2 separate regions of the Homo sapiens genome follow, and region 2 is linked to region 1. A link means that fine-mapping ties the variant in region 1 to the expression of a gene that starts in the linked region. Tissue or cell type: thyroid. Region 1 holds a variant in brackets; the other region holds the start of a gene. All regions are shown on one strand. Distances are from middle to middle.

The links. PIP is the estimated chance that this variant, and not a neighbour inherited with it, causes the effect.
Region 2: it holds the start of TUBA8, and the variant in region 1 is fine-mapped to the expression of TUBA8 in thyroid (GTEx, PIP above 0.99).

Annotation. Positions count from the first base shown.
Region 1 is chr22:18,142,082-18,150,278 of GRCh38, forward strand. It overlaps USP18 (ubiquitin specific peptidase 18), which reads left to right and starts at 8,089. Exons shown (of 11, transcript NM_017414.4): 1 at 8,089-8,141. LOC124905076 (a long non-coding RNA gene) reads right to left here and starts at 7,133. Exons shown (of 2, transcript XR_007067999.1): 1 at 7,019-7,133; 2 at 1,522-3,859. RefSeq lists an enhancer at 7,830-8,149. The variant A/G (reference allele first, on the strand shown) is at 4,962.
Region 2 is chr22:18,106,830-18,115,026 of GRCh38, forward strand. It overlaps TUBA8 (tubulin alpha 8), which reads left to right and starts at 3,980. Exons shown (of 5, transcript NM_018943.3): 1 at 3,980-4,039. The coding sequence starts at 4,037. RefSeq lists an enhancer at 3,477-3,676 and a silencer at 3,757-4,146.

The DNA.
Region 1 (8,197 bases):
ACAGCAAAGGAAATAACAGGGAAGGGACAACCTACAGAATGGGAAAATATTTGCGAACTTGCATCTGACAAAGGATTAGTTACCTATATATAAACTGTATAAGAACCTCAAATAACTCAATAGTAAGGAAACAATCTGATTAAAAATGGGCAAATGGGCCGGGTGTGGTGGCTCAGGCATGTAATCCCAGCACTCTGGGAGGCTGAGGCGGGCGGATCACGAGGTCAGGAGATCGATACCATCCTAGCTAACACGGTGAAACCCCATCTCTACTAAAAATACAAAAAATTAGCCGGGTGTGGTGGTGGTCGCCTGTAGTTGCAGCTACTCGGGAGGCTGAGGCAGGAGAATGGCGTGAACCAGGAGGCAGAGGTTGCAGTGAGCCGAGACGTCCCACTGCACTCCAGCCTGGGTGACAGAGCAAGACTCCATCTCAAAAACAAAACAAAACAAAAATAGGGCAAATAATCTGAAAAAGATTTTCATTTTCTCAAAAGAAGACATACTAATGGCCATCAGGTATATAAGTAAATGCTCAACATCACTAAGCATCAGAGAAATGCAACTGAAACCACATTAATAGGTATCATCTCACCTCAGTTAAAATGGCTATTATCAAAAGACAGAAAATAACAAATTTTGGGGAGGATGTGGAGAAAAGGAAACCCTCGTACACTGTTGGTGGAAATGAAAATTCGTACAACCATTGTGGAAAACAGTATGGAGGTTTCTCAAAAAATTGAAACTAGAACTACCATATGATCTAGCAATCCCACTGCTGGGTATACACCCAAAAGAAAGCAAATCAGTATATTGAAGAGATATCTGCACTCCCATGTTTACTGCAGGACTAGTCACAATAGCCAAGATATGGAATCAATCCAAGTGTCCATCAACAGATGAATGGATAAAAAACATGCTAGATAAGGCCGGGCGCGGTGGCTCACGCCTGTAATCCCAGCACTTTGGGAGGCCGAGGCAGGCGAATCATGAGGTCAGGAGATCGAGACCATCCTGGCTAACACGGTGAAAACCTGTCTCTACTAAAAATACAAAAAATTAGCCGGGCGTGGTGGCGGGTGCCTGTAGTCCCAGCTACTCGGGAGGCTGAGGCAGGAGAATGGCGTGAACCCGGGAGGCGGAGCTTGCAGTGAGCCAAGATCACGCTACTGCACTCCAGCCTGGGTGACAGAGCGAGACTTTGTCTCAAAAAAAAAAAAATGTACTACATATACACAGTGGAATACTATTTAGTCATAAAAAGAATGAAATCCCGTCGGTTGTAGCAACATGGATGAAACCAGAGGACATTACGTTAAGTGAAATAAGCTAGGCACAGAAAGATACATATCCCACCTTCTCACTCCTATGTGGGAGCTAAAAACGTTGATTTCAGGGAGGTGGAGAGTAGAATGATGACTACCAGAGGCTGGCAAGCAATAGGAGGGAGGGAAGGATGAAAAGTGTTGGTTATGGGTACAAAGATAGTTAGATAGAGGGAATGATAGTACTGTACAGTGATAATAGTTAACAATAATTTATTGTATATTTCAAAATAGCTAGAAGAGAAGATTTGGAATGTTCCCAGTACAAAGAAATAATAAACGTTTGAGGTGATGAATACCTTCATTACCCTGATTTGATCATTGCACATTGTATGCATGTATCAAAGTATCACATGTAACACATAAATATGTACAATTACTATGTATCTATAAAAATAAGAAACAAAGGAAAACAGTTGCTGTATAAACAATACTGGGATAACTGTCAAAATTTAAATATTGAATATATTATATATGGGAAAATTGTACGGATATGAAATTATCTGAATTTGGTAATAATTGCACTGGGGTTATGTATGAAAACATCTTTGATCCTATGAGGTTCATATTGAATTATTTAGAGCTGAAGAATGTCAATCTCTTCAATTTACTCTCAAGTAGTCCAGCAAAAGAAAAAAAGTGATTGTGTAAATATATACACATATATACTGTGTACTCACACATACACATAGATGTGTGTGTATGAGAGAGAAAATTAGTGAAGGAAGGCTCACTAGGTTGTTATAATATTTGTATAACTTTTCTTTATGTTTAACATTTCTTTTCTAATATAAAATATTTAATTTTGAATGGTTCTCCATTAAGGCAACAAATTGCCAGAGGATAGGGAGTGCCTGGGAAAGGTGACAGATGCCAAGTCACATTCTGTTTGAGTTGCACCCTGAAACCCATGCCAGGAAAATGAAATGTGGAGTTCTGTTTGACTGCTTCCACTCAACAGCTCCCTCTCCTCAGGAGAATGCATGTTCCCAAAACAATACTGAGAGGGAGGTTCAATGTTTAATTCATCTTAAAAATTATTTTTTATATTTGGAAGCATGCAAAACACAGTAAAATTTACAATAAAAAGCATCCTGACAAAATGCAGAGAAGAAAATAGGCAGGAGAAAGTTGTGGAAAGGGACTGAGCAGAGGTCACATGAAACCACGCGTTTGTAGAGAATGTGTTTTGTAAAGGAGTACTACTTTTTCAGACATCGGTTCTGTTTTCTTTTTTTAAAAAAAATCACTTGCTTTTTTTTTTTTGAGACAGACTCTTGCTCTGTCGCCAGACTGGAGAGCAGTGGAGCGATCTCGGTTCACTGCAACCTCCGCCTCCCAGGTTCAAGCGATTCTCCTGCCTCAGCCTCCCGAGTAGCTGGTTCTACAGGTGCACACACCACCATATCTAGCTAATTTTTGTATTTTTAGTAGAGACGAGGTTTCACTATGTTGGCCAGGATGGTCTCGATCTCTTGACCTCACGATCCACCTGCCTCGGCCTCCCAAAGTGCTGGGATTACAGGCGTGAGCCATCATGCCCGGCCACATCACTTCCCCTTATCCCATGCAACAAACCCTGTCCTTTCCCCAGGACAAAAATTCTTGTCAGTTTCTATAAATTGTTCCTCACGTTGGGCAAATAGCTTTTTTCTAAATAGCTTTCCATTTTGAGGGGAACTAGATTATCGCATTAAAGTTAGCCAACATCTTCCTCTGTGACCAGGTTTTTAGACAGAATTTTAAAGTGAGGTAGGTAGGTGTGGCCTTTTGCCTCATACTTCTTTATTTTATTTTTTTTTAAAGGGAAAAAGAGTAAGAAATTCAGATGATGAGAATTCCAGGGACACTGAAAGTATCCCAAATTGGCAGAAATACTGTGTAAACTACAGAAAATGCTTCTCAGGGCCCACACTTTCTTTTGAAACAAATATTACACAATTTCATTATAAACTCTTTCGCGCATGATTTTGAGAAATCTTTCCACCAATGCTTTCAAAAAGCACAATCTGTCTTAATAAAAAACTACTACCTGGTACTATTATTTTACATTTTAAAATTGTGAAACAGTATTAAGCCTACAGAAAAGTTGCAAGTATAGTCCAAAGAACTTCCTTCTTGAACTATTTGAGAGTCAGTTTTCCACGTGACATTGCATTTCTCCCAAATCCCCGCCTGTGAAGTTACTACCACCTAATCCTCAGACCCCATTCAAGCTTCACCCGTTGTGCCAATATTGTCCTTTACAGCCAAAGGATCCAGTTGGGGATCTCCTGTTCATCTATGACCTCTTTGGTCTCTGCCAGTCTGGAGCCGTTCCTCAAAGCTGTCTTTGATTTTCATGAATCGTTTGAAGATGGCAGACCAGCTGATCTGCAGAATGCCCCTCGATTTGGGTTGGCCAGGACCCGCGTCCTGGCGAAGGGGTTCCGGTTACTGACCTTCGATGGGAACAGCACAGAAGTGATACCGCGCTGGCTCCACTCTGTCCTCTGGTGGCACGCAATTCCAGTGTTCCCCGCACTGATGACTTTCTTGTACCGAATATTTACATTAATTACATTCTTTATAGTTATAATGTAATATTACATATGAGACCATGGGGTTCATCTGATTAGGTCTGCCCAATTTAGCCTGCCCTGCTTGCTTTGGGTCACTTGCTTTTGTTATTTTTTTTCTGTGAAGCTGAAGGCCGCGCCACTGAGCGCTGTAACTTAACCTTGCCGGCTTCCTTACAGATAACATGTATGTCACTACTGTCATGATCGTTCAAATTGTTTTTCAGGAACTTGGGGCAGCTCCTGCCTAGTTCAAACCAGTTGAGACCGTGAGCTTTCAAGTAGGCTTGTGCAAACAAAAGAAGTGGCCTTTTGACATCAGAGGCCCCAAGCGACACCCTCAGATCACGCTAAGGCTGTCATTTTTTGAACATGTGCCCTGTGAAGTGCCACGAACCCTGACTATGCTTGCAGTGGTCACCGACTGCCTCATTTTCCCCCACTGCCAATCACCTTTGCCCATACCTTACACCACCCTGCTTCTCTCACCGGTAAATATCCCTAAGACTTATCTTTGGGGAGGAAGATTTGAGAGCTGTTCTCCTGCCTCCTCACTGGGCTGCCTTGCGAATAAATCTTTTCTCTTTTACAAAACCTGTCACAGTGATGGATTTATGGCATGCGGGCAGAATGAACCTGTATCACATGTATGTAATAATGGTAATTAATAATATGTATTTTGTGGGAGAGTACTTTGAAACTGTGTAAATATCCTGTTTCTCATCAAACTTTTAATTTATTCAGTATCTACTTTTATTGGTATGAAGTGTGGCTTCCCATTTTATTTAACAGGTCGAAATGTTACTATCATCATTTCAGGCCAGGCGCGGTGGCTCATGCCTGTAATCCCAGCACTTTGGGAGGCCGAGGCAGGAGGATCACAAGGTCAGGAGATCGAGACCATCCTGGCTAACACGGTGAAACCCCGTCTCTACTAAAAATACAAAAAATTAGCTGGGCGTGGTGGCGGGTGCCTGTAGTCCCAGCTACTCGGGAGGCTGAGGCAGGAGAATGGTGTGAACCCAGGAGGCGGAGCTTGCAGTGAGCCAAGATAGTGCCACTGCACTCCAGCCTGGGC[A/G]ACAGAGCGAGACTCCGTCTCAAAAACAAAAACAAAACAAAACAAATCATCATTTCTTTTAATGCTCAAGTTGTTCCAAATTTGGCCAGTGGGAGCATGGTCTTGGAGCTGGCTTCTGCATCGTTTTGAAACATCCCCATCATTCTTGGAGCATTCCCTTACTTGCTGGCAGAACAAGATGTCCTAGGCTCATCTTGTACTTTCTCTGCCTTAACCCCAGAAACAGCCATTTCTCCAAGCAACATTGGTTCCTTTTACTAGAGAATGGGAATTAGAAACCAAGATCTGGGTGCAAGATGTACTGTTGGGGTGTCACTGTTCCCAGGCCCCCTACAGACCAAGTCAGGGGATGTATGCATGTATACACATGTTTACCTCCACATGTACTTCTTTTTTTTTTTTTTTTTTTTTTTTTTTTTGGATAGGGGATCTCGCTGTGTCGCCAGGCTGGAGTGCAATGATGCAATCTTGGCTCACTGCAACCTCTGCCTCCCGGGTTCAAATGATTATCCTGCCTCAGCCTTCCGAGTAGCTGGGACTACAGGCGTGTGCCACCACACCCAGCTAATTTTTTGTATTTTTAGTAAAGACGGGGTTTCACCGTGTTAGCCACGGTGGTCTCAATCTCCTGACCTCGTGATCCACCCGCCTTGTACTTCTTTATCTATCTGTGTATACATACTGAAAATCATGGATCCACACTGCTAAGTCCAATTCCAGTTCAACACTAGTGGGCTCATTCTCCCTTTCCTTATTTGTAACTCCTATCTCTGAGAGTTTCAACTCTGGCTCCAATTATCCTTAATACATTCAGTTACCTGGTCATCCCCCTGTATGTAACTAATCTGTCATCTCCACCAGCACCCTGCCCTCCCTGGACACCACACACTGGGCCACTCCAATACCGGGATGTGCCACATCTTCAAATTGCTTGGGCTGTGACCCTGGGCCGGGCTGCACCAGCACCCATTTGTGTCTGACATTGTGCTGGGCAGCCCCACTGTGCTGCCACCCTCCTCAACCTGCTCCAGTCCAGCACCCTGCTTGGGCCACTGTGGAACATACTACACAAACGCCCACTTTGCTTGACACACCTGATGGCCTTAGCACGGAATTGTTCAGGAGGGTACCATGAAGGACGGAAGGAAGAGCCCCATAGAAGTGTAATGGATCCTTACATTATATAGTCCAGCCTCCAACCCAAGGTTCACCCTTGTCCATTCTGCACTGGGGCAGCAACACCAATTACTTTGCTCCACCGACCTACCAAGATTCAGATAGAATCATTGGATTGACTATTAATAGTTTTCTGCTGATAGTTGCTGCAAGCAACTGCAGCTTGCTCCTTAGCCTTCTACTGACTTGCTGTATTTAGCATATTTTATCAAATTTTGCAACCTCCTCTCCTCATTGCCCTCACTTGAGTTTTTGAGGTTCCTGTTTGTGGACAAGACTTACCAGATGTATGAAGCTGGTTATATAACTGATTGGTCAGCAAATATAATGAGGACGGACCCTGCGCCCACCACCGTGTACCTGTGTAAACACCATACTGCGCAAAGTCCACCAGCCTTCCAGGGAGAACATGCTGCACTGTGGGCGACACTGCCTCCGTTCCAGCAGCAATGTAAGCGGAGTCTGGGCTGACGATGGACGTGTGGATAGCCTGTATGTGTATATCTGTGCTCATGCTTCTAACACACATCCACCCTATTATGGACACGTTTATACATCTTCATGCCATGGTATTTTGTACCTTACTGCAGACCCTACCAACGCTTCAGTGAGGTTCTGGCAGCTTTGGGTTTTTGGAGGCTATTTGTCTGTTGCTGCGGGGACGGCTTTCAGAAAGAATGATCGCTTTGGGGGAATTGTACCCTGCTTTCCTGCGCAAATTCCAGCGGCTGGAGTTTGAGGCCCCTAGCAGATAACCCTTCTGCCCCTACCCCCATGAGTCTACATACAAGAAATACATCTCTAAAGAGGTAATAAGCCTTTCCGGTGTGCATGTTACAGATCTCTTAACCTTATATATACACAGATGGTCCATCACTTACCGTGGTTTCACTTACGATGTTTCGACTTCATGATGGGTTCACTGGGACTTGACCCCATTTTTTTTTTTTTTTTTTAGACGGAGTCTTGCTCTTGTCGATCTCTGCTCACTGCAACCTCCGCTTCTTGGGTTCAAGTTATTCTCCTGCCTCAGCCTCTTAAGTAGCTGGGATTAAGCGCCACCACGCCGAGCTAATTTTTGTACTTTTAGTAGAGATGGGGTTTCACTATGTTGGTCAGGCTGGTCTCGAACTCCTGACCTCAGGTGATCCGCCTGCCTCAGCATCCCAAAGTGCTGGGATTACAGGTGTGAGCCACCGCGCCCCCTGACCCCTTCTTAAGTGGAGAAATATCTGTATCTGCATGCCCACAGGGGAGCTCCTAATTACACCATGTGCCGCATCCAAGCCACAGGCCGGTGATGTGAAGACACCCGATCCAAGAAATACAATAGCATTAAGAAAGAAAAAATGCTGCCATGGATACTACCAAACGCCAAATGACTCTAACACGTAGGCTAATTGCAAGGACCTTAAAATCGCAAATAAAAAGGCGCCTGTAGGTCGGGCGCGGTGGCCCACACCTGTAATCCCAGCACTTTAGGAGGCGGGCGGATCACCTGAGACCAGCCTGGCCAGCATGGCGGAACCCCATCGCTACTAAAATACAAAAATTAGCCAGGAGTGGTGGCGCATGCCTGTAATCCCAGCTACTCCGGAGCCTGAGGCAGGAGAATCGCTTGAACCCAGGAGGCGGAGTTTGCAGTGAACCGAGACAGCGCAACCGCACTCCAGCCTGGACGACAGAATGAGACTCCGTCTCAAAAAAAAAAAAAAAAAAAAAAAGCGAGGGCTGGAAGTCTGGAGCAGGTGCGCGGCTGCAACGGCAGCCGCGGGAAGCTCGGGCCGGCAGGGTTTCCCCGCACGCTGGCGCCCAGCTCCCGGCGCGGAGGCCGCTGTAAGTTTCGCTTTCCATTCAGTGGAAAACGAAAGCTGGGCGGGGTGCCACGAGCGCGGGGCCAGACCAAGGCGGGCCCGGAGCGGAACTTCGGTCCCAGCTCGGTCCCCGGCTCAGTCCCGACGTGGAACTCAGCAGCGGAGGCTGGACGCTTGCATGGCGCTTGAGGCAAGTTCGGGGCTCATTTTGGAAGTTTTCTTTCTAGCACAGACATCCAACTCTGC
Region 2 (8,197 bases), 35 kb before region 1:
ACCCGGGAGAGCTGAAGACGTAGTTCCAGTCTGAGTCTGAAGCCTGAGACCCAGGAGAGCTGAAGATGTGGTTTCAGTCTGTCTGAAGGCTGAGACCCAGGAGAGCTGATGGTGTGGTTCCAGTCTGAGTCTGAAGCCTGAGACCCAGGAGAGCTGAAGATGTGGTTTCAGTCTGTCTGAAGCTTGAGACCCAGGGGAGCTGAAGATGTAGTTCCAGTCTGAGTCTGAAGCCTGAGACCCAGGAGAGGTGAAGACGTGGTTTCAGTCTGAGTCAAGGCCTGAGAACCAGGAGAGCTGCTGGTGAAAGTTCTAGTGCAAGGGCAGAAGACCAATGTCCTACCTAGCTCAACAGTCAGGCAGGCAGAAGTTCCCTGTTTCTCAGCCTTTTTGTTCTATTCTGTTCTTCAGTTGGTTGGATGAGGCCCCTGCACATTAAGGAGGGCCATCTGCTTTTCATGGTCTACTGATTCATGTGTTTATCTCCCAGAAACACCCTCACAAACACACCCAGAATAATGTTCGACCAATGAATGTTGGGTACTTTGTGGCCAAGTCAAGTTGACACATAAAATTAAACATCACAGGGACTTAAAAACATGTCCTTTCCCCTTTCCAAACTTATACCCAGGGAGGAAAGCATACAGCAGGGTGAGATGGGGGATCCAGGATGCCACAAATCAAATAATTTTAAGAAGGAGGACAAAAACCAAAAAGAAGTAGATTTTTTTTTGAGACAGTTTCACTCTTGTTGTCCAGGCTGGAGTGCAATGGTGCTATCTCGGCTCACTGCAACCTCCACCTCCTGGGTTCAAGCGATTCTCCTGCCTCAGCCTCTCAAGTAGCTGGAATTACAGGTATGCGCCAGCATGCCCAGCTAATTTTGTATTTTTAGTCGAGATAGGGTTTCACCATGTTAGTCAGGCTGGTCTCAAACTCCCAACCTCAGCTGATCCGCCCGCCTCAGCCTCCCAAAGTGTTGGGATTATAGGCGTGAGCCACTGCACCCAGCCAATTGTTTTTTCTCTAAAGACTCCAAGACCACTGTTTTAGTCTGCTTACAACTGCCATCACTAAATACCACAGACTGGGTGGCTTAAACAGCAGAAATAAATTTTCTCACAATTCTGGAGGCTGGAAGTCCAATGTCAAGATGTTGGCAGAGTTGGTTTCTCCTGATGCCTCTCTCCTTGGCATGCAGATGGCCGCCTTCTCGGTGTGTCGTCACGTGGCCTTTTCTCCGTGTCTGCACCCTCCTCGTGTCTCTTCCTCTTCAACACCAGTCTTTCTGGATTAGGGTCATATCCTTGGGACCTCATTTAATCATAATCACCTCCTTAAAGACCCTATTTCTGACTACAGTCACACTGGGGATTAGGCTTTAACACATGAATTTTGGGGAAACACAGTTCAGTCCATAACAGCCAACCTATTTTATCTCCCTGGAACCCAGAGATGCTATAGTTAGCATTTATGGTGTAGTCATAGCTCCCTCCAGCCCAAATTTTCATAAAGGGGAAAGATGAGGTGGTTCAAGAGCCTTGTCATAATGAAAGGCAATTCAGGGCCACCGTCATTACTAGTATCATCATCATCACCATCATCATCATCTTTATCCCAACACCTTAAGAACCCGTTCATGATTTATGTGGTGGTTCACAAAGAGAACTCGAAAAGTGAATTTATTCAGCTATGTTTACTGAGCTCACCTGATGCACTCAACTAGCTATTTTTGGTAGGGAGGGCACTAAGATGAATAACACAACCCCTTCCTTTAAGGTGTTGCTGTTTTGTAGAGTGTTTAGACACACACACACACACACACACACACACACACACACACCCCTATACTCCAAACTAGAAAGTGATAAATACGGCTGGGCACGGTGACTCACGCCTGTAATTCCAGCACTTTGGGAGGCCGAGGCAGGTGGATCACGAGGTCAGGAGTTCGAGACCAGCCTGAACAACATGGTGAAACCCTGTCTCTACTAAAGATACATATTAGCCGGGCATGGTGGCGCCTGCCTGTAATCCCAGCTACTCAGGAGGCTGAGGCAGGAGAATCGCTTGAACCCAGGAGGCGAGGTTGCAGTGAGCTCAGATCGCACCACTGCACTCCAGCCTGGGCAACAGAGCGAGACTTTGTCTCAAAAAAAAAAAAAAAAGAAAAAGAAAGTGATAAATACTATGGGGCTGGGCGCGATGGCTCACGCCTGTAATCCCAGCACTTTGGGAGGCCAAGATGGGTGGATCACAAGGTCAGGAGATTGAGACCATCCTGGGTAACACGGTGAAACCCCGTCTCTACTAAAAATACAAAAAATTAGCCGAGCGTGGTGGCACGCGCCTGTAGTCCCAGCTACTCGGGAGGCTGAGGCAGGAGAATCACTTGAACCCGGGAGGCGGAGGTTGCAGTGAGCCTAGATCACACCACCGCACTCCAGCCTGGGCGACAGAGCAAGACTCCATCAAAAAAAATAAAAAATAAAAGAAATGCTATGGAAGAAGTAATAGAATATGCTATGGGAGAGTTTGGAAGAGAAATACACATAGAGTTATACTAATAACCAAAATCCTTTATTGACCATTTATCATGTGCTTGGCACAATTAGCTTAATCCTGAGTCTTAATTGTCAGGATCTTACATTATAAGATAGACAAAAATTCAACGCATGCTTTACTAAGTACCGTTTGTATCAGTGGGTAAAGCACTGTGTTTGGTACTCTCTCAAATGCAAAGATGATTACGACACATGTACTATCGTTTATGAATGGGTGGCCAACAGAACAGATTGCCGCATAGGTAAGCAGAAATCTGCTCTCATTCTCTATTGGCCACAAGCAGGCATGTCTTAGGAGCAGAAGGGTAGGAAGATCTCTAACTGTGCTTGGAAACTTGGGGAGTTACCACGTCTGGCTAAAGTGGTATTGTCTTAAGGAAAACCTATGAATTTGCCTGCGTTGGCTTGGTGCTGAGGAAAGTGGAAGAGAGAGGCTGGGGTACACCTTTCAACATGAATGGAACTGACCACTGGAGGGAAAGAACAAGAAACAGCAGTGAGAACAAGGAACAAAGACCATCCAGCCCCTCACCCACCTGGGGGGAAGTGAGGGGAGATGGGCAGGGTGACAACGTGGCCAACATCTAAAGTGTGAAGAGGGGCTTTTACCAAGTGCCCACCCCTTCCCGAGCAGGGGGCAACCAACAGCATCTGGCGGGTCTTACTACTGGGCAGAGGCAGGGGAACCCTGGTATGAGTTCTGGATTACATAGGAGATGTGACTTGGACACGTTTGGGGCTTAAAAGTAGGAAGGGATCAAGGGGGGAGATTTGAAAATCCCGGTGGAGGTGCGAGGTATCCGGGGAGAGGGTAAAAACGGGAACAGTCTTCAGCACCTGCCTGTACCAGGAGCTCTGTGTATGCCATCTCATTTCCGTCTCCAGCAACCAGGCGGGCCTTGGCGGCAGGAGGCACAGGCTTTGGGAGCAGAGGCCCTGCAGCTTGCCAAGCACACACGGCCCTAGGGCGCCCAGCTGAGACGGCACCTTGGCACCCGGGCCCGCTGCAGCCCGCTCCGGTCAGCTGCACCCCAGTCAGGAGCCTTTCCAGCGGGTCGGAGGAGAACGGAAGTTTGGGGAGACCCGCGCGATTCGCCTGGCTGCATTTTACATTTCTTTCTCCGGCAGCTGGGGTCACGAAGGCTGCTCTCGCCGGCGGTGTTGGAACGTGGACACGTGCGCTTTGGTAATAGGGCAGCCTCCCCCGCGGGCGCAGTCCCCGCTGCGAGCGCCCCCGGCTGCTGAGGCGGGACCGAGGACCCGGAGATTTGAGCCGCGGGTGGGCGGGGAGGGGCCTTTGTGACCTGCCCGCCCCTCCCCGGCACTGTGATGCCGGGGGGCAGCTGCGGGCCCGGCGCGCCTGTCCCCGGCGTCCCCCCCTCCCGGTGTGTCACAACGGCGGAGGCGGCTGTATCTGGAGCAGTCGGGGCGGGCAGGCCCAGCTGAGAGGTGCGCGGGCGAGGACAGCGGCAGCGATGGTGAGGCTTCCCGGGGCCAGGCGGGCTGCGGGCGCGCGGCAGGCGTAGGACCGAGAGCCGAGTCTACGCGGAGGCGCACGGACCCGTCTTCCTGGAGCCGCAGGGCTCAAGGCCTTCTGGGGGTGGCAGTTCAGGGTCGAGGAGTCCGCACCCTCGGGCGGGAACACCCGGTGCCCTTTATCGTATGGGGGAAATAGAGACCAGGGGCCAGTTGTTCCTTAAAGGGACCTAAGGGAGCTTTGCGTGCAGACGAGGGGGAGGGAGGCCCTGGGGAGCCCGACGGAGAAGGGGGCGAGATTCTGGGGTCCCCAGATGGGCAGCCTGTGGACAGAGTGGAGAGAAGGGCGAGTCCGGGGATTCTGGATGGGTGGTCTGGGCCGGGGCGACTGGGGGGCCAGATGCAGTCACGTCTCCGAACCCAGCCTAATGTGACAGGGCCCGGAATGTGACAGAGGACCTAGGGCGCCACGGTCCCCCCACGCGTGGAGGTCTTTCTCGCAAGCCTGGCCAGCGGCTTGGGTTTGCTGCACGCACAGCCCCAGCGCGGCGGGGTCCTCCGGGCGCACTCAGCAGCTCCCAAGTCTTTCCAGCGGTCAGAGTCGAAGGACTTTGGGAGTAAGAAGTCTCTGCTTCCAAAGGCCAGGGGACCTTCGACCTGTTTCCTACCCTGGCTTAGGGGGATCGCGGCTGCTCCCTTCCCTGCCCCCGCCCCTGGATCTTACTGAGGGGCGGCTGCAAACACTCAGTTCCTCTTTCTAGGGTCCCCCTCTCCGCCCCCAGTGCCCCTGGTGGTTAACATTTGCCCCCAGTCCACTTTCCCAAAGCCCAGAATCCCAGGAATCCCTCCTGGACCCCTGATCTTTCAGCAGTAGGGAGATGGGCTGGAAAGATTGGGGGCAGAGTGAGGGCAGAATAAGCCTATGTCATGGCCAAGGTCGGGTTCCCTGGGCAGGCTTGCTCCAGGTGTCAGTGATCCAGAAAGCAGGCGAGAACCCCCTCCGCCCCGCCCTGTTACGTTTGGCCCGTGCCCAGGGCCTCCTGGCTCCCCCGGAGCTCTAGCCTTCCAGCTTCAGTTTTGTCAGCACCCTCCCTCCTCCTAGCGGGCTCCCAGACACCCCTGGGAACTGAAAGAACTTGGGAATATTAGGGAGGGTGGCCACAGGAACCTATTTCTGCCTGAGGACCCTGGTATGAGGCCACACAAAGGGCCCGGAGCTGCCAGTTCAGAATTTTGACTCCTGGCTCTGCAGCTAGCTGTGTGACTTCAGGAAGGTCACTTAACCTCTCTGGATGTGTTTGTTTTACCTGCGAAATGAAGAGGGTTATAATTCAAATTTCCAAGACTCCACTTAGATTTCATTATTTTTAAACTTTTTATGGTAGGGAATTTCAAACATATGCAAACGGAGAGCAAATGGTATAATTAGCGATTATATACATCATCTAAGTTCAATAATTACCAACTTCTGACCTGTCTCACTTCATTTATTCCCTCCCTCCATAATTTTGAAGCAAATGCTAGGCTGCATACTCTAGAATTGATATTTAATATTTATAATATCTAGCAGGTAGCTAGTGTTTTAGGATTTTCCAAGTGCTTCCCTTGCATGCTTTAATTTGGATCTGAATGCCATTGTGGTACAGAGTGGAGCCCAGAGGATGTTTACAGGGGCGTGTCGAGGATCTTAACCCAGCCCTGTGCACAAGCTTGAATGTGTGATCCACAGACGTGTTTCTGACAATGCCTGGTAAATCAACAATTCAAACAGCAAAACTTTATTTTGAACGTGCTTAAGAATTTGGGTGTTTAGCTGAAAACCTATGGTTAAATATTTTGAAATGCGACCACCTTTCATTTATTTTGAAACACTCAATTTTGTCTAGTAGGTTCTATCTAGAACATTTAACTTGTGTGCGTTGCACTGTCTTGATGGCTAATATTTTTTGTTGAACATTTTACACTCACAGAAACTTTTAAAATATCATTTGGCTCATTTGTAAAAGGCTAAAATGACACATCTATAAACCTAGACCCCTAGAATCTCACCCTTACAAAAATGACTGTATTTCTTCTAAGGATTAAGTTTCAGGCTGCTGTCCTGTCCCCTTCACTTCCCTCCCTGGTGGGGGTTTGGGGGAGGTGACCTTGGTGTTAAGGAGAATTCGATTTGGAATTTCTGTAGGCTCTGGGCAAGAAAAGTGTAACTAATCCTTAAGTGTATTTTTAAATGCATTTCTCTAGCTGCTAGGCAGATGAGCATTTTTCCTCTGTGAACTTACCCCCAACCCCTTCTCCCCAGCTACCCACTGCACGGTACCACCAATACCCTTTAGCATTTCTGTCCTGGAGCCTAAAGTGACACAGCTGGTAAGAAGCTGCGTAGGGGCTGGAGTTTACATCTGCTGGGCACCAGAGCCTCTGTCCTGAGCCACCTGCCCGTGCTGGGACCGGCAGGCTACTCCCACAGCAGACCATTCCCATCCATTCCCAGTGTTCTAGCACGCAGCTCTCTGGGAACTCAGACTATGACACCTTTTTTGGGAAGTGGTATGGAGAATCCTGGCCAGGTGCCCTAAGCCAAGCCCATGCCAATGATACCAGGGCACAGAGAAGTTTTCTGTGGTTTATGGGGAGGTGGGAACATCTGCAACACGGCTTCTTTAACTCCATTCCGTTAGGACTGGAGAGCACGAAGGAGCCCGTCTCCCTGCAAAAATGGGCAGTTAGAGGGTTCTGGGGGCCAAATGGACACCCTTCTGCCTGCAGCCTTCTGCAGTCTCCCCATGTAGACAGGCATGGCCAAGCTCTGTGGAGTTGATAGGTGTATTCTGACCTCAGAGCACTGTGTGGGCTCCCAGGGGCTGCAGGTCACTGCTGCCTCCTCCTCCCCTCCCATCACAAAAGGCAGGTTTCCCGAGAAGCACTGGGCGCATGCCTCCGAGTGAGGGGCCTTGGCTCACAGGGCAGCGGCTGGGGCAGAGCTGCTGGATTGGTGAGTCCATTGGGAGCCCCCAGCCTTGGGTCAGGCCCATACAGAGCTTGGGGTGGGGGTTAATGCCACTGTTGAATGTGCTTTCTCCTAGTGACCTTCAAAGGGAGATGAAAGTTAAAAATAATTTTGGTGGGGGAAATAGCTGGTGGATAGCGGGCCAGTGATGGGGGTGGGCAGGAGGATGTGGCACTGTCGGGGGGAGGAAGCAGACCAAATGCTCCTTTTCCCTCAAGCCGCAAGGGACGGACAGCACTATCTGTGGCCTTTGTGGTTGGCATTTCCCCTGCAGTGTCTTCCTGTTAGGAGTTCTCTCAGATAATAAGCTGCAGAAGAGAGCAGGAGATGGAGCAGGCACTGTGTGCATCGGATTGAAACTCCTAAGTGTCTCTTGCACCTGCCCCAGTGCCAGCCACAGCCCAGGCCTTCAACGCCCTCCGGCCTCTTATGCTGGAAGTCTCCTTAGCAGATGGCCTCATGGCCAGAGCTGGCCTCCTGTGAGCTCTGTTGCTGCCCTAACTGCAGTGCCTATCATCTGAGCCCCTCTCGCGAGCCACCTTCACTCGCTAAAGTGAATTTAGGCCGACTTTGTTTTTGCTGTGTCTGGCTTGCTATCTATTCTTTGTTATGAGTGATCTCAAATATGCCCTATGATCGAAGAGTTCTGAGCAGAGAGAATTCAGCAGCCCTTCAGGAGCCACATCTGTCCTTACTTTAATTACCCCTCTGTGACACTGTGGGCCTGCTTTTCACTTGCCATCCCTGACCTAGGTCCTAAGATATATGTGATCTATTTTATCCCAGCCTGACAACTAGAGATAATTCGGTGTAATCACATGCTTCCTGACAGCAACTGGGGCATGAGAGCACAGGTGGTCAGGGAGTGTGGGTGGTGCCAGGCTTTCACAGGGCACACACTGTGGTCCACGTCGGCCCCTCTCCCAGATGATATGCCACTTTTACTGTCTTGTGATACTTGGAAATAGTATCACAAGACAGCCTTTTTAAGGCTTCAAAGTCTCCTTTTGCCAAGGATGGTGATTAGCTTATCTTAGTCCTCTGAGAACAAAGCAAAAGGAAATGACTACTATTAAAATAGAATATAAGAATGATGTAAAAAAAAAAGGGCTTCTTGCAGCAAAATTATAAAAGGGCTGCAAAGTTCTAG